Linked DNA regions of Homo sapiens: regions 2 and 3 are each linked to region 1. Evidence: fine-mapped expression QTL. A gene starts in region 1. Each other region holds a variant in brackets. All regions are shown on one strand. Distances are from middle to middle. Region 1 holds the start of MTG1 (mitochondrial ribosome associated GTPase 1). Region 2 holds the start of SPRN (shadow of prion protein). Region 3 overlaps LOC105378575 (a long non-coding RNA gene).

Region 1 (8,180 bases):
AACAGTTTATAATGCTCCTCGAACCTACTGAAGCAGAAGCGTCAGAGAGAGCACAGACGAAAAGCCTACCTGCTTGACATTTTCATCCTTTACACAGTTGGTAAAAATGACATTTTTTAGGCCTTCTCCTTCTAAGTGTTGCATAATTTTCTGAAAGACACAAAACATTTCTATGTTACTTTTTTTACTGGAGTCTTGGCTCTGTCACCCAGGCTGGAGTGCAGTAGCACAATCTCGGCTCCCTGCAACCTCCGCCTCCCTGGTTCAAGCGATTCTCATGCCTCAGCCTCCCAAGTAGCAGGGATTACAGGCATGCGCCACCACGCCCAGATAATTTTTGAATTCACTGGCCTTAACATGCAGTGAAACTAGTGCAAAGCAGTATCATATTTCTAAACATCAGTGCTGTTAATCATCTGACCTAAAGTATGACTGATGTTTAAATCAACAAGTCCTTCACTGATTCAGCTGGTTTTATTTAGCTGTCCACGAAGATGACACGGATGGAGAGATCAAACATAAGACACACACCTGAAGCCACACACTCTGGGTAGTAAATGTACTTGGGTGTCCCTGCTCAGGGAGGCAGAAGGCAGGGCCACCCAGGGGCAAGTCTACCTCTCTCCCGATTCTTCAGAAGCACTGGCCTTTCTCTGACCAGGTCAGACACTGCTGTGCCCTATACTAGACGGCCACCCACCAGTCTACAAAAAGTCACATTTTCAAAGGCAGGAGTTGCCACTGATATGACGTAAAAGTACCAACTAGTGAAAACACTTGCGATGATTTAAAAAAAAAAAAAAAACAGGCTGGACGCAGTGACTCACGCCTGTAATACCAGCACTTTGGGAGGCCGAGGCGGGCGGATCATGAGGTCAGGAGATTGAGACCATCCTGGCTAACACAGTGAAACCCCGTCTCTACTAAAGATACAAAAAATTAGCCGGGCATGGTGGCGGGCGCCTGTAGTCCCGGCTGCTCAGGAGGCTGAGGCAGGAGAATGGCGTGAACCCGGGAGGCAGAGCTTGCAGTGAGTCAAGATTGCGCCACTGCACTCCAGCCTGGGCGACAGAGCAAGACTCTGCCTCAAAAAAAAAAAAAGAAAATAAGACACAAGACAAAGAGATAAAAGAAAAGACAGCTGTGCCTGGGGGACCACTACCACCAAGATGCAGAGACCGGTAGTGGCCCCAAATGTCTGGCTGCACTAATATTTATTGGATACAAAGCAAAAGGGGCAGGGTAAGGAGTGTGAGCCATCTCCAATGACAGGTAAGGTCACGTGGGTCATGTGTCCACTGGACAAGGGGCCCTTCCCTGCCTGGCAGCCAAGGCAGAGAGAGAGGGAGAAAGAGAGACAGCTTACGCCATTATTTCTGCTTATCAGAGACTTTCGGTACTTTCACTAATTTTGCTACTGCTATCTAAAAGACAGAGCCAGGTGTACAAGATGGAACATCAAGGCGGACTAGGAGCGTGACCACTGAAGCACAGCATCACAGGGAGACAGTTAAGCCTCCGGATAACTGCGGGCAGGCCTGACTGATGTCAGGTCCTCCACAAGAGGTGGAGGAGTAGAGTCTTCTCTAAACTCCCCTGGGGAAAGGGAGACTCCCTTTCCCGGTCTGCTAAGTAGCGGGTGCTTTTCCTTGACACTGACGCTACCGCTAGACCACAGTCGGCTTGGCAACGGGCGTCTTCCCAGACACTGGCGTTACCGCTAGACCAAGGAGTCCTCTGGTGGCCCTGTCTGGGCATAACAGAAGGCTCACACACTTGTCACGTCTCACTATGTCCCCTCAGCTCCTATCTCTGTATGGCCTGGTTTTTCCTAGGTTATGATTATAGAGCAAGAATTATAATAATATTGGAATGAAGAGTAATTGCTACAAACTAATGATTAGTAATATTCATATACAATCATATCTATGACCTATATCTAGTATAACTATTCTTATTTCATATGTTTTATTACACTGGAAAAGCTCGTGTCCTCGGTCTCTTGCCTCGGCACCTGGGTGGCTTGCTGCCCACAATGCGCACTCACTGACCACTCGGGCTCTGGCAGCACAACCTGGCCACTTCCCACAGGAGACGTGCACTCCCTGGGTGTCCAGGTCACGAACCACACATTAGATGGGGGCACGCCATATGAGAAACGATGCTGGCACGCTTCTGCAAAGCAAAGGGCTGTTTCTAAAGCAGAGCCTGCCTGGGCAAACTGACAAGTGTGCGTCCGGCAACTCTTCCGTTAGAACAAGCGACCTCGGGAAAACACAGCCACACTGCTGAAGGCGTCTGAGAGAAAGGCCTTTACCTGCTGCTCTGTAAGATCCGCCAAGTCCATCTTGTTGAGGACCAGCAAGTGAGGCTTAAGCCCAAGGGTTTCCTGAAACAGAGGGTTGCGGCCTGAAAGTGGGATGTGGCAAAATTAAGGTAAAAATTCCTCCAAAGCTTTACCAGCCAACCAACTTTTTTTCTTGCCATCAGTGAACGAATCATCACATCCTGCCAATTCATTCCTCAAGTACAGGAGAAAAGCCCCAGTTGGCAGGAACATTTAAACAGTTTCATAGCCCATCTAGAGGATTCCACTGCTGCACCGTACCGTCAGGCTTGAGTGACGCAGATATATGTATTAACAATGAAGTTTCAAAGACACGCAGTCTGGACCCCACATCACAGATTCTGATTAACTGGTCTAGAAAGGGGCCTCGCAATTCATATTTTTAAAAGCCTCCCCAGGTAATTCTAATGTGTAATATGACTTCAGGCAGAGGGGCCTCCCCTGCTCTGTGAAAGGATATCCGGGCATCGTGGACCTCGATGATACAGTCCACCAGCTTCAGGCTGCTCTGCATCTTCTTCAGCCCTGGAAAACAGAAGGACGCCTCAGCGAAGGGGCTCACAACCTTTCTAGAGTGATCGATTCAAGCTGAACCGTCCAGAATGACACGCCACCATAAATAACCTAAAAAGACTATATCTGAGGGAAGCGTACTAAGTAATGGTAACAGATAACATCCGCTGAGCGCCTCCTCCAAGGTCCGCACCCTCGGAGTGGGAGACTGGGAGGCACCCTGCCACAGGGTGGGCCATGTGTCAAAAGCCAGATGCGGTCTTCACCACCTGACTCATGGCTGACTCTGGGTGGAATATTTAACGTGCATGGGTCGCTTTTTTGTTTTCTGAGACGGAGTCTTGCTCTGTCACCCAGGCTGGAGTGCAGTGGCACGATCTCGGCTCACTGCAACCTCCGCCTGCCAGGTTCAAGCAATTCTCCTGCCTCAGCCTCCCGAGTAGCTGGGACTACAGGGACGCGCCACCATGCCGGGCTAATTTTTTGTATTTTTAGTAGAGACACGGTTTCACCATGCTGGCCAGGATAGTCTCGATGTCCTGACCTCGTGATCTGCCCACCTCGGCCTCCCAAAGTACTGGGATTACAAGCGTGAGCCACCGGGCCGGGCCCTTCCACGGGTCTTAATCTGGGCTATAACACAGAGTAACACTGGCTCATTAGGCCCCTGCTACCTCGCGGGGATGATGACGATAGTCCCCTAACCAGGAATACCACACACAACCAAGATAACAAAGCTTCCAGCTTTCTTCCCCTCCAGTGTTATCCGAAGACCGAGGACACAGCCTCAGTCACCCACACGGGCCCTTCTTCCCCCTCGGCCCCCAGTACACGCGGAGCCGACGCAGGAGTGGCCATCACAACACCTAGACGGGCTGGGCTGGCCCCAGAGGTCTTCTTGGGGCCGAATTGTGACAAACAGTAAGAATTACCAAAGACGTTAAGCAGGAGAACGACTCAAGATACCAGTTAAAACTGAACAGGTGCCTTCATACCCACTGTTTCATTTAGTCCCCAAAAGACTCAGAAAAGTCTATCTTGTCAAGAACATGTGGAAACGGAGGCTTCGGGGGATTAAAAGGGCAGAAGGAACTTGCTGGGAACAGAGGACAGGGGCGGCGGGCCAGAGGTAGGAGGTCAAGCAGGCCCTGGGTCCGAGGCTGCGCCGCGGGGGCACTCGCGGGAACGGGCCTCTCCCGCAGCTGCGCAGGGGAAGGGGTCCCGGCGGCTCCGGGAGCGGGTGAGAGCGGGGAAGGAGGGGAGACAAGGGAGGAGGGGCGGGGCCAGCCCAGAACGACCGGGAGAAGCAGGCGACGGCCGAAACCGGGGTGGGAGGGAAGCAGAGGCGCCGCGGCCGTAGGCATGACCTTGCCCCTCCCCGCCGTGCCTCACCCTTGGCCATGTGGCCCGGGAACCAGCGCGCCACGTCGCGACCGCACAGGGGGAAGTTCTCCCGCCAGGCGGCCTGGGCGGCGCTGCACAGCGCGCGCGGGGTCAATCTCATGGCGGCACCGTCCCCGGAAACGCTCCCGCAGCTGACCTCCTCTGCGCCGCTGCGACCCGCCTCTGAGGTTCCGGCGCTGCGGGCCTCCGGCACTGCGGGCTTCCGGCGCTCCAAGGGGCCGCACCACGGCCTGCGCGTGCGCACGACGTTGCCTCCGCCTCCGGCGAAGCCCGGAGTGGGCGGGGCCCGGGCCCAGAGGGAGGGACGAATGGTGGGTCGAGCGTCGGGGCGGGACTGCGAGGAGACCCGGGGGGACGGGGAGGTTCCTGGGTTTTGTGGGTTTAAGTAATTCGCAGATTTATTAACATTCATTAAATATTAAAAATCATCGTTCTCCCTTAAGCATATCCTGAGTATAAGTGTAAAAATTTAGCAATCTCTTTTTACAATTTGGTTAAAATCTCTCAAATACTTTAAATTTACCTTATAAATGTAATCTCTTCATTTTCTTTTTAAGTACTTCAGGGTTTTTGTTTGTTTTGTTTTGTTTGAGACGGAGTCTCCGCTCTGTTGCCCAAGAGTGCAGTGGCACGATCTCGCTCATTGCAACCTCCAACTCCTGAGTTCAAGGGATTCTCCCACCTCAGCCTCCGGAGTAGCTGGGATTACTGGCGCCTGCCACCACGCCGGCTGATTTTGTATTTTTAGTAGAGATGGAGTTCCACCATGTTGGCCAGGCTGGTCTCCAACTCCTGACCTCAAGTGATCTACCTGTCTCGGCCTCCCAAAATGCTGGGATTACAGGCATGAGCCACCGCGCGCAGCCTCAAGTACTTCAGGGTTTAATATAACAAACTGTTTCCAAATACTGACTGCAGTTCTGCTAAATTAAACCGATTAATTAATGAGGCTGAAATATTCTCCACTGTCCAAGACTAGACATAAATATAGTCGGATTTCAACTCTAAATCAGCAGTCAGCAACTGCTCAATTGCACACTGCGTTACAAGAGTATTACTCTACCGGAATTTTTATTTTTGAGACGGAGTCTCGCTCTGTCGCCAGGCTGGAGTGCAGTGGCGTGATCTTGGCTCACTGCAACCTCCGCCTCCCGGGGTTCAAGCAGTTCTCCTGCCTTAGCCTCCTGAGTAGCTGGGACTACAGGTGCGCACCACCACGCCCGGCTACTTTTTTTGTATTTTTAGTAGAGATGGGGTTTCACCATGTTGGCCAGGCTAGTCTCGAACTCTGACCTCAGGTGATCTGCCCACCTCAGCCTCCCAAAGTGCTGGAATTACAGGCATGAGCCATGGCACCCAGCCTCTACTGGAATTTTTTAAACAAGCTACTGAAAATACCAAACATGCTCAAATTCTAAGTACAAAAATATTGCCATGGTTCTGATGTTCTTAAACCACCTAATACCCTAACGCCTAGCTGTAAATATTTTTGGGCATGAGAGAGTGGCCCCTCCGTGGAAGACAGAAGCCTCCCAGGTGGTTTCTGGGCTGAGTGGGGGCAGTCAGGGCCTCCTGCTAGGTCAATGCCCCCAAGCCCCCTCCTCACCAAGCCGGTCCCTCACACCCAGAGGGGGCAGCCTGGGTCTTGCTGCCTTTCTCCCTGGGATACAGAATTGATGAAACCCTAAATGTCAATGATAAAGATTTTTGTACTTTAAGGAAGCTGCATTCCCTCATGGTCCTAGGAGCACAAAACCACAATAAAACCCTGTGGAATCTGAATTTCTCTCCCAGGCGTCTGATGGGCAGGTGTCCCCAGAGAGAACAGTCTGGTGACACAGCAAATGCAGGTGGGGCTGCTGGCTACAGAGGGAGGCTGGGGCTCGGGAGGGTGGGGTCAGGGAACATCCTAGGAGGGGCAATTTGAACAGAGACCAGAGGGTGAGAAGAGAGGAGCCCTGCAGATCCAGGCTGGGGTGGAGGGGCCGGAGAGGGGCCTGGACTCCCAGCACATTCACCCCAATACCACGTGGTACCCCAGCACTGCCCACACCCCAACATCCCCCGGCACCCAGCACACTCACCCCAACACCCCCCAGCACCCAACACTACCCACACCCCAACACCCCCCAGCACCCCAGCACTGCCCCCACCCCAACACCCCCCAGCACCCAGCACACTCACCCCAGCACTGCCCACGCCCCACACACTCCCTGGCTCCCATGGGCTGGGCACCGTTTCTCTTTTCAGGCCTTATTATGTATTCACTTCCTCCAGAAAACCCCCGGCCTCAGGGCAGGGCAGGGCACCCCTCATCTCCCCAGTGCCCTGCGAACCTGTGAAGTGGGCGCCTGATGCAGCATCAGTTGATGAGCAAGAGGAGGGTTGTCAGCTATGCTGTCATCCCAGGCAGCAGCCACGAGAATGCAGGGGCACGAGAAGCAACTACAGGACCCAGAGTTCAGGGAACCCAGAGTGTGGGGCCATGTGTGGTTGTGGGGATTGGAGACACAGGGCCCTGTGCAACCTGGGCCCGGAGCAAGACAAAGACAACAGCAGCAGATGCTGGAGCCCCAAGGCAGGAAGGACAGGACAGCCTCAAGGCAGGAAAGATGGCTCTGGGAGCTGTGGCTGTAACTTGCTTTATGTGTCCAGCATCTCCGTGAGCATCTGGTGTCTCAGCTCAAGTCAACCCTGGCCAGACTCCAATAACAGACACAAGAACTGAGAAGGTGGCCCTGGTTACCAAAAACCAGAGGACCCTCATTAACATCCCCAAATTTCAAGCCAGACTGAAATCTGTCAGAAGAAATGAGGGTCCCAGCCTACCCCCGACACGGGTGGAACAGAGTAGGCTGGGCCCAGCTAGAGCCTGGGCCTGGGCTGCTGCACCTGCGGGGCCCACAGACTGAGGAGGCGGTCGGCCTCCCTCCATCCCGACAGCAGAGCCCCGTGCGTCGTGGAGTAAAACGTGCGATGTGTGGCTTCCCCCGCAAACAGGATCTGGAGCTGCAAAGAAGAGCCAGGGTTAGAATGGGGATGCAATTCAGACAGCAGGGTCTGGGCAAGGAAACACAGAAAATGGCTCACAAGCATCCACCAAGAAGCAGGAAAACAGCTCACACACCTCCACCAACGGACGAGAAAAGGGCTCACGTGTACCCACCAATAGCCAGGAAAACAGCTCACACACATCCACCAACGGGCAGGAAAACAGCTCACATGTATCCATCAACAGCCAGGAAAACGGCTCACACGCATCCACCAACGGGCGGGAAAACGGCTCACACGCATCCACCAACGGGCGGGAAAACGGCTCACACGCATCCACCAACGGGTGGGAAGACGGCTCACACGCATCCACCAATGGGTGGGAAAGGAAGCCACTGCACCCCGCAGCTCAGGTGTGAACAGCTTTTAGAGAAAACAAGGGGTGTAAACACTGAATAGTGATCTGGCCTCAACTCCTGGATCACATATGGGGAGGGTGGGGGAGGGATCTGGGAGTCGGGTGGGCAGAGGAAGAAAGCTACAGCCTTATCTGATGTAATGAGAAGTCAATTAGTAACACCTGAAACTGAAAACTCAAGAAGCAACATTTCCAAGCAGGTTCACTGAAGAGAGACCATGAGCTGATTGGAAAACTGAACAGTGACTAAATATTGGATCATATTGAGGAATGATTATTAATTTTTAAGTGGGTAAATGGTATCATAGTTATATGGTTTTATTTTTATGTTTTCTGAGACAGAGTCTTGCTCTGACACCCAGGCTGGAGTCCAGTGGTGCAGTCATAGCTTACTCCAGCCTCAACTTCCTGGGCCCAAGCCTGAGCAGCTGGGACTACAGGTGCATGCTACCATGCCTGGCTACTTGTGTGTGTGTGTGTGTGTGTGTGTGTGTGTGTGTGGAGACC
Region 2 (8,180 bases), 26 kb before region 1:
CATCCTTTTCCCCTCCCACCGGCTCACCAGGGATGCGCCTCCGCGACTGCCCGCCCCAATCCCAGGGCGGAGGCCTCGCGCAAAACCCAGGCGCCGCGGCTCCGCGCTCCGGCTGAGGGTCCGCGCCGCCGCCCGCCCGCTCCTTCCCGCTCGGCCGCGGCCTCAGGGACGGATACTCCAGCGCGCGGTTCCAACCGAGGCCCGTGGCGGGTAAGGCCGGGAGGCTGGGGCGGGTACGGGGCCGGGAGCGAGGGGCGGCGCGGGGAGGGGATGCAGCTGTCGCCCGCACAGCCGTGTCTGGACGCGGCCCCGCAACTCGACCCCGTCCCGCCCCCAGCCAGCTGCTGAACTAGGCGGCCGGGGACGGCATTGAGCGCCGGGCGCGCGCGGGAGGGACTGCCCCTGGGGCACGGGTCTGCTGGGGCGGAGTCCGCACGATGTCAGCAGCCGCTTGTCCTCCGCAGCATCCGCAAGGCCCGCACCCAGGCTTTGGCCCCAAAGGTGGGGACCAGGCCCAGGCACGGCCCGTCCCCGTTCCAGACCCTGATCTGAGCCAGCTCTTGGTCCCGGCTACCGCGTCCTCCAAACACAACGCCCCTCCCCCCATGCCGCCTCCCCCCGCCCCCCACATCCCAGCAACGCGTGCAGAGCTCCCTCCCCCAGGCTTGCTCCCCCGCCCGGGCCTGGACGCCCCCAGAGGCCTGAACGCTCCTGCCCCGCTTCTACACCCCCAATCCAGGTGCACAACCTTCAGGTGCAGAACCCTCCTGCCCCACCTGCCACTTCCCAGCGCCTCCCCCAGGCCTAAGTCCCTGATGCTAGAGGTTAAACCGCGCCCCCCCAGGCCTCAGTGGGCCTCCAAGATGCTGGGGGCACCCTGATCCCACAAAAGATGGGGGTCCCTCTGCTCTCCAGCCTTGAGCCCTCCGCCCCTGGGCACCCGATCTCCATGGAAACTAAGGGCCCTTTCCCTCTCTTCCCGCAGGTTTAGCCCCACGAAGATGAACTGGGCACCCGCAACGTGCTGGGCTCTGCTACTGGCGGCCGCCTTCCTCTGCGACAGCGGCGCAGCCAAGGGCGGCCGCGGAGGTGCGCGGGGCAGTGCCCGGGGAGGGGTCCGCGGGGGTGCGCGCGGGGCCTCGAGGGTGCGCGTGAGGCCGGCGCAGCGCTACGGTGCCCCGGGCTCCTCCCTGCGCGTGGCTGCCGCCGGGGCGGCAGCCGGGGCGGCGGCGGGAGCGGCCGCGGGCCTGGCGGCGGGCTCGGGCTGGAGAAGGGCCGCGGGACCCGGGGAACGCGGCCTGGAGGACGAGGAGGACGGGGTGCCCGGAGGCAACGGGACAGGCCCCGGCATCTACAGCTACCGGGCGTGGACTTCGGGCGCTGGACCCACGCGCGGCCCGCGTCTCTGTCTCGTGCTGGGCGGCGCCCTCGGAGCCCTGGGGCTGCTGCGGCCCTAGGCCTGGCTGGGCTCGGGGACCACATCTGGCCCCCGGCCCGCGCCATCCCCCAGGATCCTCCGGCCTGGGCTCCCCCTTCCTCCCTTGCCCACGGTCTTGGAGCCCCACTGGGTGCAGGAGCTGCTGGCTGTCCCTGTGGACCCGCCATCCACCGTCCTGCCCACGCCGCCTCAGCCTGCCACCTCCCACCTAGAGGAGACCATGGGCCCTGCCCCACCCACTCCAGGATGTTAGGGTCCCCTCAGCCAAAAAGGCAGCTGCCTGTGGCTCCTGTACCAACCGCCCAGCCACGCTCCATCGCCGCCCAAAGGGAGGTGCCAAGGCCAGGAACCCAAGCCACCCCGGCTCCCCTCGCCTGCCCAGGGGCCGTGGTGACTCACGGGCAGGGAGGCGACATCAGGCTGGTTCTGCCACTGAGCCCCTGAGGAATCTGACCCTCCCCAAAAGAAGCAGTGAAATGGACCAAAGGACTTAAGAATTTGGGGGGAAGTGAGGGAAAAACGTTAGGTGCTAACCACCTGCCCAGAAGAGTGGATCTCACAGCCCAGGAACATTCCCAAGCAGGAAAACCGTCCGTCCGAGGAACGTCCATCCTGGCTCTCTGCGGCTGGTGGGAAAACACACCCTGCCCTGAGGGGCTGTCCAGGCCTTCTCCCCCACACCCTCAGGCCGAGATCCGTGAGAGACCCACTTTGCTCCAACAACTTGAAACAAGTCACTTTACCCTCCTTAGGACCCATTTTGGGGGGGAAAAACCAACACATTCCAGAGCTTTCCAAGTCCTTTGAACTTCAGGTTCACATTCAGGGATCACACAGTTCTGCCTGTTCTCAGGGCACAGCAACTGCCAATCCCGCTGAAGAGGCCTCCCTGGGCACAGCACAGGCTGCACGGTGCACGCATTTCCCTGAAGGCAGCCCCTTCTTCGGAAGCAGCTGTTCCAGGCCTCGGAACAGGGCCTGGGTATCCGCGTGGTGGGCTGGCAGCTGACGGCCTGCTCAGTGGAGCCAGGAGCTAACTCAGACCCCAAAGCAAGCAGGGGGCCAGTGGCGGGGCCCAGCGCCCAGCAGGACACCCATGCAAGAGGCTGAGCCCCCCAACATCCAAGGACAGGAGAGACATGGAGTGGCGCTGGACAGTCACGACAAGGACTTGCCTCCAGCACTGGACACACCTGTGTTAAGACCAGCCCTCTGCTTCCCAGTCCCGCCAGCCTGGGGCATCCTCCATGGGCTCAGCACTGAGAGGTCTTGGGTCTGCCACGTTCTCTAGCTCTCCAGTCACCCACTCATCCAGGGTAGGAGGGGTTCTCCCTGCCCCCCGCCGTGGCCTTGGGATCTCACCCTCTCCATGTCCTGGGGACAGCCTCGCCCTCAGCCGGACTGCATCCCTCCTGGGCCTGAGCCTCGGGACTCAGTGGACACCAAAGTCAAGACCAGCACCCACCACGGGCCCTGCCAGCCTCTGCCTTCCCCAGCTGGCCTGGGTTCTGGCCTGGGTGAGGATCTGGAAGCTGTTGGCAGGACTCAACCAAGCACTGCTCTCTAGCTCCAGGGCACTAAGCCACAGGAGGCAGCGCCCTGCAGCCTCCCGTCCACACTGCCAGCAATGCCCCTGGCCCAGTGAGCCCAGACGCTCCTCCACCCCTTCCAGACCAAGCTCAACGCCTCCAAGACCAGCAGGCCAAGGCCAAGCCCTGCCCCAGATCCTCATAGGCAGAGAAGCCCTTCTGACATTTCCCCCAGGAGGCAGGGGGTGGTCTGAGTCTCCTCACAGCAGAGAGACCCACCGGAGCCCCCTCAACTTTGCAGATGCCCACCTGGAAAATGGGCTGAGCTGCACCAGACCCTCACACACCACAGCACTGCAAGCTGATGGAATGTTCCAGTTATGATGGACACTTCGTGATCTGCAATGACTGTTGATTCAGCACATTAGCATCTGACACAGCCAACCTGAATACTTCCTGCCCCAGGCGGTCAGGGTTATGGCACGATGCAGGTGGCACTCAGGGGCTAACTTCAGGCTGATGAGTGTGTGGGGTATGGGGCAGCAGAGGCAGCCAGCCAGCAAAGAGGGGCCACTGAGCACCAGGGCCCTGGTGGAGGCTGCTGTGGGACGGTCAGGCCACCACCGCAAAGAGGCAGCCGGAGCTTCTGCACAGGATGTCCCTGGCCCCAGGTCCTGCAGCACCTTAGTCCATACTACCAGCCCCACCCACCTTCCTTCCTCTTCCCTCTTCTAGGACACAGGCTGTGGACCCCTTCAGGTGCACTATAATGGGGCTGGAGGGGCCCCCACATCTCTCAGCCCCACTAATGCAGAATCCCACTACCCGTGAGCTAGAAGGTGCTCAGAGGCCAGGGGTCTCTACTGCCCATGCCGGGCGGCCTTCCAGTCATTGCACAGCAAAGCCATGTGCAGGGCGTCCCCCTCAACCCTGCCCTGAACATGCCCCAGGGCACTGAGGGGCGAAGCCAGTGCTTGGGCTCTGCTGCTGGGAGTCTCTGGTCTGTGTCTGTGTGTGCCTGTAAGTGTGAAATAAACCTCTCTGATGGCAGCAAGCCTCTCACTTGTTGTAGGACTGCAAGACACTGGACCGAAAGCCTCCAACACAAACCCTAGCTGCCAACCTGCTCATTTCTTAGGTTTCACTGGTGAGAGCAGCTTTAACACACAGGCCCAAGGCACTACGGTGCACCTCACAGGCCAGTAAGAAACAGGCCCTTTAACTGGAGATTTTAAAGGTTACAGGTTATAGCTTTAACTCCTTCTGAGACAGCATCCATTTCTCAAGAGGCCTGAGCAGGAAGCTCCGGGAGAACCAAGCATGCGGAGCTGCTCAGGGACGTCCACTGGGAAGCCTGGTGTCCACTCCCACCTGCTTGGGCCCTGCAACTGGGGTCCCTGGAGCTGGCCAGGCTGTGGGGCGCCAGAGAGCACAGCACCCTAGTGACCAGCATGGAGCTTCTGGACCGGGTGAGCTGTCTTGAGCCTCAACCACCCAGGTCAGGAGGTCTGGGAGGCCACATGCCTCCGGCCCTCCCTACCCGGACAAGTTCAGGGCAAAGTCTCAGCCGGGGGGTGGCCCCGCAGGACGTCGAGGTCCAGCATCACGGAACCCAGCAGCCCACGGCGGAAAGTCTGCAGGAAGTCACGGGCTGCCGCAGGATAGTTAGGCTGAATAATGTTCACGTTACCTGGGGGACGGGAGGGTTCAGTGAGGAAGGAGCCTTCACAGCAGGACAGGCCCAGC[C/A]CTTACCCACCTGAGGGACCAGCCCTAAGAGGCTCCATGATGGCATCAGGGAAGCCCAGGGAACGGGATCACACTCAGAAAGAAAACAGCTTGAGCTACGCTGCCCGGAGCCTCCAAGGCCAGGCATGTGAGGCCTGCAGGTGTCCACCTAGCACTGCCCAATACGCGGCAGGGCTGGTCTCACCCTCGGAAGCCTGGACTACAAGCCCTTCCTCTCCAGAACTTTCTGTAGCTCCCCTGCCCTGAAACCCATTCCCAGAAGACCCGGCGCATGCTCCTTGACACGTTCCTCTCCTCCCTGCCTCCTCCAGGGATGGCCGGGGTCCCCCAGGGTGATGGGGTGAGGCTCCGGTGCCCGCATCAGCGACCTCACTCACCCGTGCCCGTGAGCACCTTCACCTTCTGCGTCTTCCCCAGCTTCACAGCCACACTCTTCAGCACGCGCTCTACGTTGTCACAGGCACTGCCCAGGCCGTAGTGCTGCACGTACCTGCACATAGGCTGCAGGTCAGCACCAGGGGGCCCAGCACTGACACCGCGCGGCCAGCCAGGCCGGGCCCTTCCTCCTGAATGCCACAAAGGCCACGGCCAGGCACCTCCTGTGGGTGACAGTGACTGCGGCGCTGTGGATGACCAAGATGAGACTGCAGGTGACCGGTGCTGGGCCCCGGGGGAGAGCCACTATCTAAGAATCATCCCTGAGCTTCGTCCTGTGTGGCCACGGCCAGCAGCATGGGGGGCGGCTCCCACCACCGGAGCCCTTGCCGCAGCGGGAGGAGTAACAGCTGTTCACACACACAGGCTTCATCCACTCTATCCGGGGTAGGACAGGCAGGCCTCTGTGCAGGCCCAGGTCCTGGAAACTAAAAGAGGAGCACAGCAGACCATCTGCAAACATACTCTGTTTGCTGCTAAGGATGGCACTCGGTAACTTCCAGGCAGCCAGTACACCTGCATCCTCTCCACCCGGCTGGGTGTTTGAGCGGTGTTTTCCTAGCACAGGGACCAGCATGGGCTGACTAGGCACCCACCGCTGCTAAGCGTCACCCAGTGATTGTAACGGGCACTCTGACTCCTCACAGTGCAGGCTCTGGGCAGAGAGGCCTGGAGGGAAAGGCCAGCACAGAGCAGCCACTCACAGGGACAAACACCACCCTAAGCCTTGGGAGCCCGACTAACCCAGACCCAACACTCTCCCAACCTTCCTGACAGCCAGGGGTGAGGGGAACCTGTCTCGTGGCTCCCACGAGGGCAGGCTCAACCTTGAGGAGGCTGGTGCCCTCGGACCTGGTCACAGCATGAGCCGGTAACAGAGGACTCACCCCAAGGCCCAGCAAAGCAAGACATGAGCTCAGAGCCCATAGGAGCATCAGAACCCTGAGTAACACAGGTTCTAAATCTAACTTCTCGGAGGCACCAAGCATGAGCTCTGAATCAGCAGCCTCAAGGGTGCCCTGGTGCTCCAAAAAAGCTGTCCCAGGAGAGAGGAGCAAGCCTGGAGGAGGCGCCCCGGACCACCCCCGAGACCTGCCAATGGGAAGAACTCCTGAAAGGACCGGACTGTTTCCAATAATCTAACTGTCCCACAACAAAGCTCAAGAATTTTTACAGGAATGTAGATATCCATCACCTAACAAGGTGAAACTCAAAATACATGGCATCCAGCCAGGCATGGTGGCTCACGCCTGTAATCCCAGAACTTTGGGAGGCCAAGGTGGACGGATCACTTGAGGTCAGGAGTTCGACACCAGCCTGTTCACCAATATGGTGAAACCCTGTCTCTACTAAAAATACAAAAATTAGCCAGGTGTGGTGGCACATGCTTGTAATCCCAGCTACTTGGGAGGCTAAGGCGGGAGAATCGCTTGAACCCAGGAGGTGGAGGCTGCAGTGGGCTGAGATTGTGCCACTGCACTGTAGCCTGGCTGGGCGACAGAGTGAGATGCCATCTCAAAAAAAAGAAAAAAAGAAAGTCATTGGTAGCTTGATGGGGATGGCATTGAATCTATAAATTACCTTGGGCAGTATGGCCATTTTCACAATATTGATTCTTCCTACCAATGAGCATGGAATGTTCTTCCATTTGTTTGTATTCTCTTTTATTTCATTGAGCAGTGGTTTGTAGTTCTCCTTGAAGAGGTCCTTCACGTCCCTTGTAAGTTGGATTCCTAGGTATTTTATTCTCTTTGAAGCAATTGTGAATGGGAGTTCACTCATGATTTGGCTGTTTGTCTGTTATTGGTGTATAAGAATGCTGGTGATTTTTGTACATTGATTTTGTATCCTGAGACTTTGCTGAAGTTGCTTATCAGCTTAAGGAGATTTTGGGCTGAGACAATGGGGTTTTCTAGATATACAATCATGTCATCTGCAAACAGGGACAATTTGATTTCCTCTTTTCCTAATTGAATACCCTTTATTTCCTTCTCCTGCCTAACTGCCCTGGCCAGAACTTCCAACACTATGTTGAATAGGAGTGGTGAGAGAGGGCATCCCTGTCTTGTGCCAGTTTTCAAAGGGAATGCTTCCAGTTTTTGCCCATTCAGTATGATATTGGCTGTGGGTTTGTCATAGATAGCTCTTATTATTTTGAGATACGTCCCATCAATACCTAATTTATTGAGAGTTTTTAGCATGAAGGTTGTTGAATTTTGTCAAAGGCCTTTTCTGCATCTATTGAGATAATCATGTGGTTTTTGTCTTTGGTTCTGTTTATATGCTGGATTACATTTATTGATTTGCGTATATTGAACCAGCCTTGCATCCCAGGGATGAAGCCCACTTGATCATGGTGGATAAGCTTTTTGATGTGCTGCTGGCCATCAGAGAAATGCAAATCAAAACCACAATGAGATACCATCTCACACCAGTTAGAATGGCAATCATTAAAAAGTCAGGAAACAACAGGTGCTGGAGAGGATGTGGAGAAATAGGAACACTTTTACACTGTTGGTGGGACTGTAAACTAGTTCAACCATTGTGGAAGTCAGTGTGGCGATTCCTCAGGGATCTAGAACTGGAAATACCATTTGACCCAGCTATCCCATTACTGGGTATATACCCAAAGGACTATAAATCATGCTGCTATAAAGACACATGCACACATGTGTTTATTGCGGCATTATTCACAATAGCAAAGACTTGGAACCAACCCAAATGTCCAACAATAATAGACTGGATTAAGAAAATGTGGCACATATACACCATGGAATACTATGCAGCCATAAAAAATGATGAGTTCATGTCCTTTGTAGGGACATGGATGAAATTGGAAATCATCATTCTCAGTAAACTATCGCAAGAACAAAAAACCAAACACCGCATATTCTCACTCATAGGTGGGAATTGAACAATGAGAACACATGGACACAGGAAGGGGAACATCACACACCTGGGACTGTTGTGGGGTGGGGGGAGGGGGGAGGGATAGCATTAGGAGATATACCTAATGCTAAATGACGAGTTAA
Region 3 (8,180 bases), 120 kb before region 1:
GTGAAAACATTTAGAATTAATAATTCAATGTATTTAAGAGTAGCATAACTGGTCAGGCTCTACACTTCTTGAATTGATTACGAAAACTACATTTTTTCTAGGAATTGTGATTTCTTGTAAGCTGTCAAATTTATTCACATAAATTTGTTTTAGTATTGTCTTATGTTTACAGTCATGGTTGTATTTATCATTATGTTCCTTTGACATCCCAAACATTGTTTATTTGTGCTTTTTTGTGCTTAAGTAGTCTCAGAAGCAGTTTCTCTACTTTATTAATCTTTTTCAAATAGCAAGCCTTGGTTGTGTTCCTCTCTATTTCCTCATTATTTTGTATTTCATGATTTCTGCCCTTCTTTGGGTCCAGTATGCTGCTTAGTTTCAGTTGGACATTTGGCTTATTAATTTTCAGTCCGTCTTTCTTAGTACAAGGACTTATGATTATATATTTACCTGTAAGATCTTCTGTTACTGCTTCCCCAAGTGCTGATATTTAACGGTTCCATTATTCACTGAGCTCTGTGTGCTTTCTTAATCTCCATCCCTTGATTCATGATTCATGTGCAAATGGGGTATTTTTCAAAATATATAGAAATTATTTTTTAATTAGAGAAAATTTCAAATGTGAAAAAACAGTGAGAGAAAGATAAAGCACCCCCACATAGCTAACACTCAAATTCAACAATGGTCAAAATGCAGTTAATTTTGTTGCATCTTTAGAGTTAAGACCTTACTCTCTCTAATCTCTCTCAAACTACTTACAATGCCAATACCACAGCTAAAAATAAAATAATTTTATGAAGATTGTTAGTTTATACTTTTACTGATGTCTAATTTAATTCCATTGTTGTCAGAGAATGTGGTGTGTATATAAGTTTTGTACAGTTTACTGAACTTACTGTATGGCCTAGCACAGTGCTCCCTAGAGTGTGGTATGCAGACCATCGGTGACGAGGCTGTACAGAAATTGAGAGCAGGCAACTGTTCAAACTGTGTTCAAATACGGCAAACACAGAGCTGTAAACAATCCAGCTGTTTCTAGACCTCATTTTCATTTTCTCTACATTTCTTTTCTGTTCATAAATCTTCCACCACGTGGCTCCACTGCAGTCTCTCTGAGCCTATTCTGGCCTAATTAAACTCTGTTAAATTTAATTTGTCTAATAAAGCTTTTCCTTTAAATATAGGATTGGAAGAAATATTGGCCACAAAGGAAAATTCACATTGGCAGAAGTCATAATGAGTTAAAAATAATGGATATGAACCCCCCACAAAAAAACTAAGGAACCAAATCTTCATTGGATAATTTAAATGGAGAAACTAATCTAGAATAAAACCATTAATGTAAAATTAAAGTGCAAAAAAGTCAGACAGTTCAACTACTCTGTGTAAAAACGTGATACGATATTAAATAACTTAAGAGAATTTAAAGAAAAGTCATGAATGTTGGCATAATTCAGTGTTAAAGTTGCATACGTATGTCCAAATGTCACCTGAATTAAAACATCCTTACAATCAAAGTTCAGGATAGAAACTCTCGGGCTCAAAGGTCTCCTGCCTTCCCTACTTTTATCTTGTTAATTTTTTTTTAAAAAAAGAAAAACCAGGTGTTGTGTGTGTGTGTGTTTGAGACACAGTCTCCCTCTATTGCCCAGGCTGGAGTGCAGAGGTGAGATCTTGGCTCACTGCAGCCTCAATCTCCTAGGCTCAAGCAATCCTCCCACCTCAGCCTCCCAAGTAGCTGGGACTACAGGTGCGTGCCACCAAGCCTGGTTAATTTTTTTTTTTTTTAGAGACAGGGTCTCACTATGTAGCCCAGGCTGGTCTGGAACTCCTGGCCTCAAGCGATATTCCCACCTTGGTCTCCCAAAGCACTGGGAAAGTTTAATTTTTAATGAAGTATGACGTATATGTCAAGGTTTATTTGTTTTGCATGTGGACACTCGATTTTCCCAGCACTGTTTGTTGAAAAGACTACCCTTTGTCCATCAAGTTGCTACTGCACCTATGTAAAAACAGGTATATTTGTCTGGGTCTATTTCTGGGCTGTCTATCCTGACCCATTAACTTGTCTTTGTCTTTCACCAAAATCATACTCTTTTTTACTGTACCTCAAGCTGAAGGACTCTTGCTACCCAGTTTACATCTTTAAATTGGGCAGCGGGAATAAATTAGGTAACGAGAGTCCTACAACTTTGTTCTTTTTCATAGTTGTTTTGACCATTCTAGTTCCTTTGCCTTTCTGCATAGATTTTAGAATTATTTGATCAATATCTGATTGCTAAGATATTGATTAGAATAGCATTGAATTTATAGATAAAACTGGGGACAATTGATGCACTAACAAGAATCTTTTCCAACCCATGAACATGACATATCCTGCATATATTTTATTAAATTAATATCTAAGTGCTTCATATGTTGCTATTGTAAATGTTTTTTAAACATTTAATTTTATTTAAAAATTCTAGTTTCCTATTTAGTTATTCATTGCTGGTACATAGGAATACAATTGCCTTTTGTACATTGACTTTATATTCTAGTCTTGCTAAACCCATTTATTAGTTTCCAGTAGCTTTTGGGGGTAAATATGTAGGGATTTCCATATAGATAATTATATAACCTATGAATGAAAACAGATTTATTTCTTCTTCTCCAATCTGCCTGCCTTTTATTTCTTTTTCTTGACTTACTGCACAGTATTGAATAGGAGTGGAGATATGGTTTGGCTGTGTCCCCACCCAACTCTCTCCTTGAATTGTAATAATCCCCACATGTCAAGGGCAGGGCCAGGTGGAGATCACTGAATCATGGGGCAGTTTCCCCCAGACTGTTCTCACAGTAGTGAATAAATCTCACGAGATCTGATGGTTTTACAGATGGGAGTTCCCCTGCACAAGCTCTCTTACCTACCACCATGTGAGATGTGACTTTGCTCCTCCATCGCCTTCCACCATGACCATGAGGCTTCCGCAGCCATGTGAAACTGTGAGTCCATTAAACCTCTTTCCTTTATAAATTAGCCAGTGTCAGGTATGTCTTTATTAGCAGCGTGAGAGCACACTAATACAAGTGGTGCGAGAGGAACTGTTGACATTTTTTCCAGTCTTGGGGGAAAGCATTTACCCACTTATCTTCAAGTATGATGTTAGCCGTAAGTTTTTGTAGTTGCCCTTTGTTAAGGTAGGGACATTCTTTTCTATTCCTAGAATGCTGTGAATTTTTAGTGGGAATGGAGGATGAATTTTATTGTTTTTACAGTATTTTTTGAAAAGACAATATAATTTTTCTTATTCAGCCTGTTAATACAGAAAATTACATTAATTTTCCCATTTATTATTTTTTAAAATGTATTGAGGTGAAATTCATTTAACAGAAAATGGATCGTTTTAAAATGAACAACTCAGTGGCATTTCGTACATACACAATATTGTGCAACCGCCACCTCTGCTTCCAAAACATCCTCATCATTCCAGAATAAAACCTCATACCCATCAAGCAGCTTCTCTCCATTTCTCCCTGCTCCTAGTCCCTGGCAATCACCAGTCTGTGTTCTGTCTTTAGGAATTGACCTATTCTGGCTATTTCATGTAAATGGAGTCATACAGTTTCTATTGCTCTATCTTCAAGTTAGTCTTTCCTGAGCTGTGCCAGTTTCCTGGTGAGCCTTTTGAAGGCATTTTTCTTCTCTAGTGCTGTGGTTTAAAATTTCTATTGTTCCCATGACGTTCATGTTTATAGTTTCCAGCTCTCTGCTAAAATGACCTACCTGATCTTGCGTATGGTCTGTCTTTTTCATTAGGACCATTAGCATATTACTGAGTTGTTTTAAATTCCCTTTCTGATAGTTCCACCACCTGTGTCATATCCGAGTCTAGCAGTAATGATTATTTTATGTCTTCTGTTTTTCCTTGCTTTTTTGCATACTGGACATCTTGTGTAAGACAGTAGATACTAAGGTCAAAAGTGTTTTATGCTTTGAGAAGAGCACACATTTTATTTTGCTAGTTCTTTATGTGTGGGGGCTTGTGCTCATCTTAATGGGGGTTAGGCTGAGTCGCAAGTTTGTTGTTTCTGTGTGAACATGTACCAGCAGCTCCTGATTCCCCTAGACATACTTCGAGTTTGTCTGCATGCATCGCTTTCGCTCTCTCTTTGCTCCTGGGAGAGAGGCTCTCTCTTGCAGCTCCACCAGCTCTATTCCACTGATATTTTTATATGATGCTTGTCAGTGAGATTATGGAGTGTGGAGGAG[G/T]ACAGCATTCCCTGAGGTTCTAATTTAGCCTCAGTCTTCGGCAGACCCTGTCTTTCCAGCCCTTCCAAGCTCCAGGAATGCTGTGGGATCGCCTGTAATTTTCAGAGGCAGAAGTTCCTCCTTGATTGTGTCCCTCCACAGAGCACTAGATAAGGAGAGAATCAGTAACTTCCACTTATGCAACATCTTTTAAAGTAATTTTCTAGCATCTATTTCTGAGATTTTAAGGACAATCATGGCATGGAGACATCCTATAATACTCCAGTGGCATCTTGAAATTGCCAAGACTGTGAGAAGCATTTCAGAAACCTGGGGAATTATTTTCTGGATTTAAATCATGTGGAAGTTGTGGTGCTTTTAATATATTTATCTCATTTGGATGTTTCATATGCAGAAGATATGTCAGTTGTATTCATAGCCTAGGAAATAGAGTCCTGTCTAACACTCCATAGTTTGTATTTTTTAAACTTAAAACTCTATTTACAAGGACAATCTTCTGTGTCGTATATTTTGTAGGTTAATATATGCCCAGAAACAACTCCCACAAAGCCCAGACTCCTCAAGTGCATGCCAGGGAATAACCTTTGTATGAAATCGAATGATAATATGTTGCAAGAGTTAGATCAATTTGCAAAAGAGTCCGTTAAATGATGATGACAGCACAATGTGAAAAGCTGGCAATAAGGCACTTCCAATAATAGATATGAGGACATCACCAGTGTACATCAGTTTCAAAAGTTCTTACTTTTTTCAGTAATCTGATTTCAATTTCTAATTAATGAAGATTGGGGAAGTTACCTTTTAACTATTTCTAACTTTGTTGACTTAAGATCAAAGAATGTGGACTGTAAAGTGTTTACTTTTTATAATTTGATAAGGTTTACTTTGTTCCCAAGTACAAAATTGATTTTTGTAATTGGGACATGAACACACAAACAAAACGTTATCTTCTGTTTAAAAAGTAAGTTTAATGATTACATTATTCAGTTTTTTCCATATTTGCTTCTTGTACTAAATTTGTCCAATTCTGAAACTGTGTTTTGAAGGTTGCCACTGTCATAGAACTATGGTCTAGTTCTTTTTTTATTTCTAGTAGATCTCAGTTCAAATATTTAGTTCCATGTTTTTGGTAAATAGAGATTTGTGGCTGTTACATCTTCTTCATAAATTATGCCTTTTATAATTGTCTACTACCTCTCTGTGTCCTGTTTAGTGCATTTATCTATAAATACTGCAGCTGTTGTAATCTCAATACTATCAAATACATAAGGAAAAGTATGCTAAGTGTATAGCCTGATGGGTTATCACAACATGAGTGTGGCCATGCCGAAGGGCTTTCAGAGTAGAAACATCACCCGCCCTCGGAAAAACATCACTGGCTGTCACCAACTCCTCCCCTAGTCCTAGGGGAGTTTATCCTACCTTTTAATACCACAGAATAGTCCTGGCCACTTTTAGACTTTATGTAACATTCGCTGAATCACACAGTATGCATTCTTTGTGTCTTAATTCTTTTACTTAGCTTCATGTTTGTGTGATTCACTCATGTTTGTGAACTTAACTTCATGTTTGTGTTATTTGTAGAAGTAGTTCATTCTTTTTCACTGCTATATATTATTCCACTCTGTGAGTATAGCATGATGCATCAATTATACCCCAAACAATACTGTTTTTTCTACTTTTTCACTATGCAAATAATGCTGTCATGAAATTTCAGTGCCTGCCTTTTAATGCACCTGCGTTGCTTACCTCTGTTGTTTATATATCTAAAAGTGAAATTGCTGTAACGTAAGGTAAGCACAAGTCATAAGTCAAGCTTCTATGCATGTGTGAGTCTGCACTTTGTGTGGCTCCATTGGTTTATTTGTCCCTCCTTGCACCAATCCCACACTGTCTTATTTAGAACATTTTAAAAATTACTCTTGATATCTGATAGTGTAACTCTTCCAACTTTGTTCCTCTCCTAGGGGATATTCTTGGCCCTTTGCATTTCTACCTACATTTTAAAGTCATCTTGTCCATTTCTACCAAAAACTACTGAAATGTCTGGAATCGCACTCAATCTATAGATCAATTTGTGGAGAACGGATATGTTGCAACAATGACTGCTCTAATTCATAAACATGGTATCAGTTATTTCTGTGCAAGGAAACTCCCAGAACTCTCTCCTAATCCAGACTAGGCTGGGATGAGTGGCCTGTTGCAGGTGGGGTGGGTGGAGTGGTCCTGCCTTCCTGAAGGTCTTGTGTGGCTCTGCTTCACATCTCTCATGCTTTTTGGAACAGTTGAGGAGCTGACACATGTGTCCTCATGACCGTGGCAGGAGCACCTTCTCAGACACCTCCTTGCATTGGTTGCTCACTGTTTTAATCATGCACTGTTGGGTCTGACATGAATTTGGAGAAATATGTGACCTACCAAAGGCCTCGAAAGGCATATCTGGGGTCTCTGCATTCTCTTCATTTGTTGCAGACAAGTTGTTCAAAGCTAAGATTCAGGATGTGATGGTGCTCATGGCAATTTCCCTGCTGCACTAATTTTGGAATTTTCTTTTTTGTTCCATTGTTATTCTTGGCTAGTTTCAAAAGAGGAGAGTATAATAAAAATGACACGCATCTACTATCATTAAACAGAAGTCTCCATACTACTTTCCGTTCTTTTATTTTTCAAAATCATCATATGTAAAATAGACTTCTTTTCCTTTGGTGTACAGATCTATGAAATATAATGCTATTATATGTATTATATATATTATATTTATAATATAGAGTATATTTATTATATTTATTGTAGTATATATTATATTTTATGTAACTCCCACCATAAACGGGTACAAAACAATTCCCTCAATGCAATTATTTATCAGTTCTAGTAGTTTTGATGTAGTCTTTATGGTTTTCTGTACGTAATATCATGTCATCTGCAAACAGGAACCGTATTATTTCCTCCTTTCCAATCTGGATGCCTTTTATTTCTTGCTCTTGCCTAATTACTCTAGCTAAGACTGACAGTAGTACTACGTTGAATGGAAGTGGTGAGAGTGGGCATCCTTGTCTTGTTCTTGATCTTAGATGGTTTGACGCTTGTCTATAGTGATATGCTTTGACTATTTTCTTCTTATCTTTTGTGTATCTACTACAGATTTTTGCTTTGTGGTTACTTGAGGCTTGCAGAAAACATCTTATGTTTATAACCAGCTATTTTTAAGCTGATAAAAGCTTAATTTTGATTGCATAAATAAACTCTACATTTCTACTCCCCCACCTCATATTTTATGCTTTTGATGTCACAATTTATATCATTTCATCATTTGTATCTCTCAACAGATTATTGTAGCTATGGTTGTTTTTAATTGCTTTATCTTTTAACCTTTGTACTAGAGATAGAATTGTTTTACAGAAGACCATTGCCTGATTACTAGTTTGAATCTGACAATGTACTTACTTTTACCAGTAAGTTTTTTATTTTTGTATTTTTATCCTATCAATTAGTATCCTTTTAATCCAGCTTGAAGAATTCCTAGAATTTCTTGTAAGGCACATCTAATGGTGATATCCTTCCTCGACTTTTGTTTGTTTGAGAAAGTCTTATTCTTGCCTTCATTTTTGAAAGATAGTATTACTAGGTATGGTATTCTTGGGCAGTAATTTTTTTTTCTTTTAGGATTTTGAATATATCATCCAGCTCCTTCCTGGCCTATAAAGTTTCTGGAAAAAGAAAATCCATGGATATCTTACACGGTGGGCATCCCTTTTGTGTAACTATTTGCTGTCCCTTGTTGCTTTCAAAATTCTCTCTTTGTCTAAATTTTTAACAATTTGATTATAATATGTCTCAAATGTGTGTCTCTGGATTTTTCCTATTTGGTGTCATCTGAGTTTCCTGAATCTTGATTTCAATTTATTTCCCTAAGCTTGGGAGGTTTTTC

Evidence for each region.
Region 2: its variant is fine-mapped to the expression of MTG1 in whole blood (TOPMed, PIP above 0.99).
Region 3: its variant is fine-mapped to the expression of MTG1 in adrenal gland (GTEx, PIP above 0.99). The same link has a PIP of 0.9 or more in transverse colon.

Annotation. Positions count from the first base shown.
Region 1 is chr10:133,390,405-133,398,584 of GRCh38, reverse strand. It overlaps MTG1 (mitochondrial ribosome associated GTPase 1), which reads right to left and starts at 4,428. Exons shown (of 11, transcript NM_138384.4): 1 at 4,253-4,428; 2 at 2,808-2,872; 3 at 2,318-2,422; 4 at 70-150. The coding sequence starts at 4,364. PAOX (polyamine oxidase) reads right to left here. Exons shown (of 7, transcript NM_152911.4): 7 at 6,891-7,273. The coding sequence ends at 7,130. RefSeq lists an enhancer at 2,748-3,702 and silencers at 4,027-4,226, 4,287-4,636.
Region 2 is chr10:133,416,503-133,424,682 of GRCh38, reverse strand. It overlaps MTG1 (mitochondrial ribosome associated GTPase 1), which reads right to left. Exons shown (of 11, transcript NM_138384.4): 10 at 5,091-5,203; 11 at 2,163-4,657. The coding sequence ends at 4,518. SPRN (shadow of prion protein) reads left to right here and starts at 58. Exons shown (of 2, transcript NM_001391974.1): 1 at 58-210; 2 at 986-4,017. The coding sequence starts at 1,002. The coding sequence ends at 1,457. LOC124902564 (a long non-coding RNA gene) reads right to left here and starts at 113. Exons shown (of 2, transcript XR_007062397.1): 1 at 1-113. RefSeq lists enhancers at 1-242, 1,061-1,680. The variant C/A (reference allele first, on the strand shown) is at 4,714.
Region 3 is chr10:133,509,025-133,517,204 of GRCh38, reverse strand. LOC105378575 (a long non-coding RNA gene) reads left to right here. Exons shown (of 5, transcript XR_946512.3): 3 at 2,877-2,985; 4 at 7,916-7,992. Among named protein-coding and RNA genes, the nearest start is that of CYP2E1, 14 kb to the left of the region's middle. The variant G/T (reference allele first, on the strand shown) is at 4,253.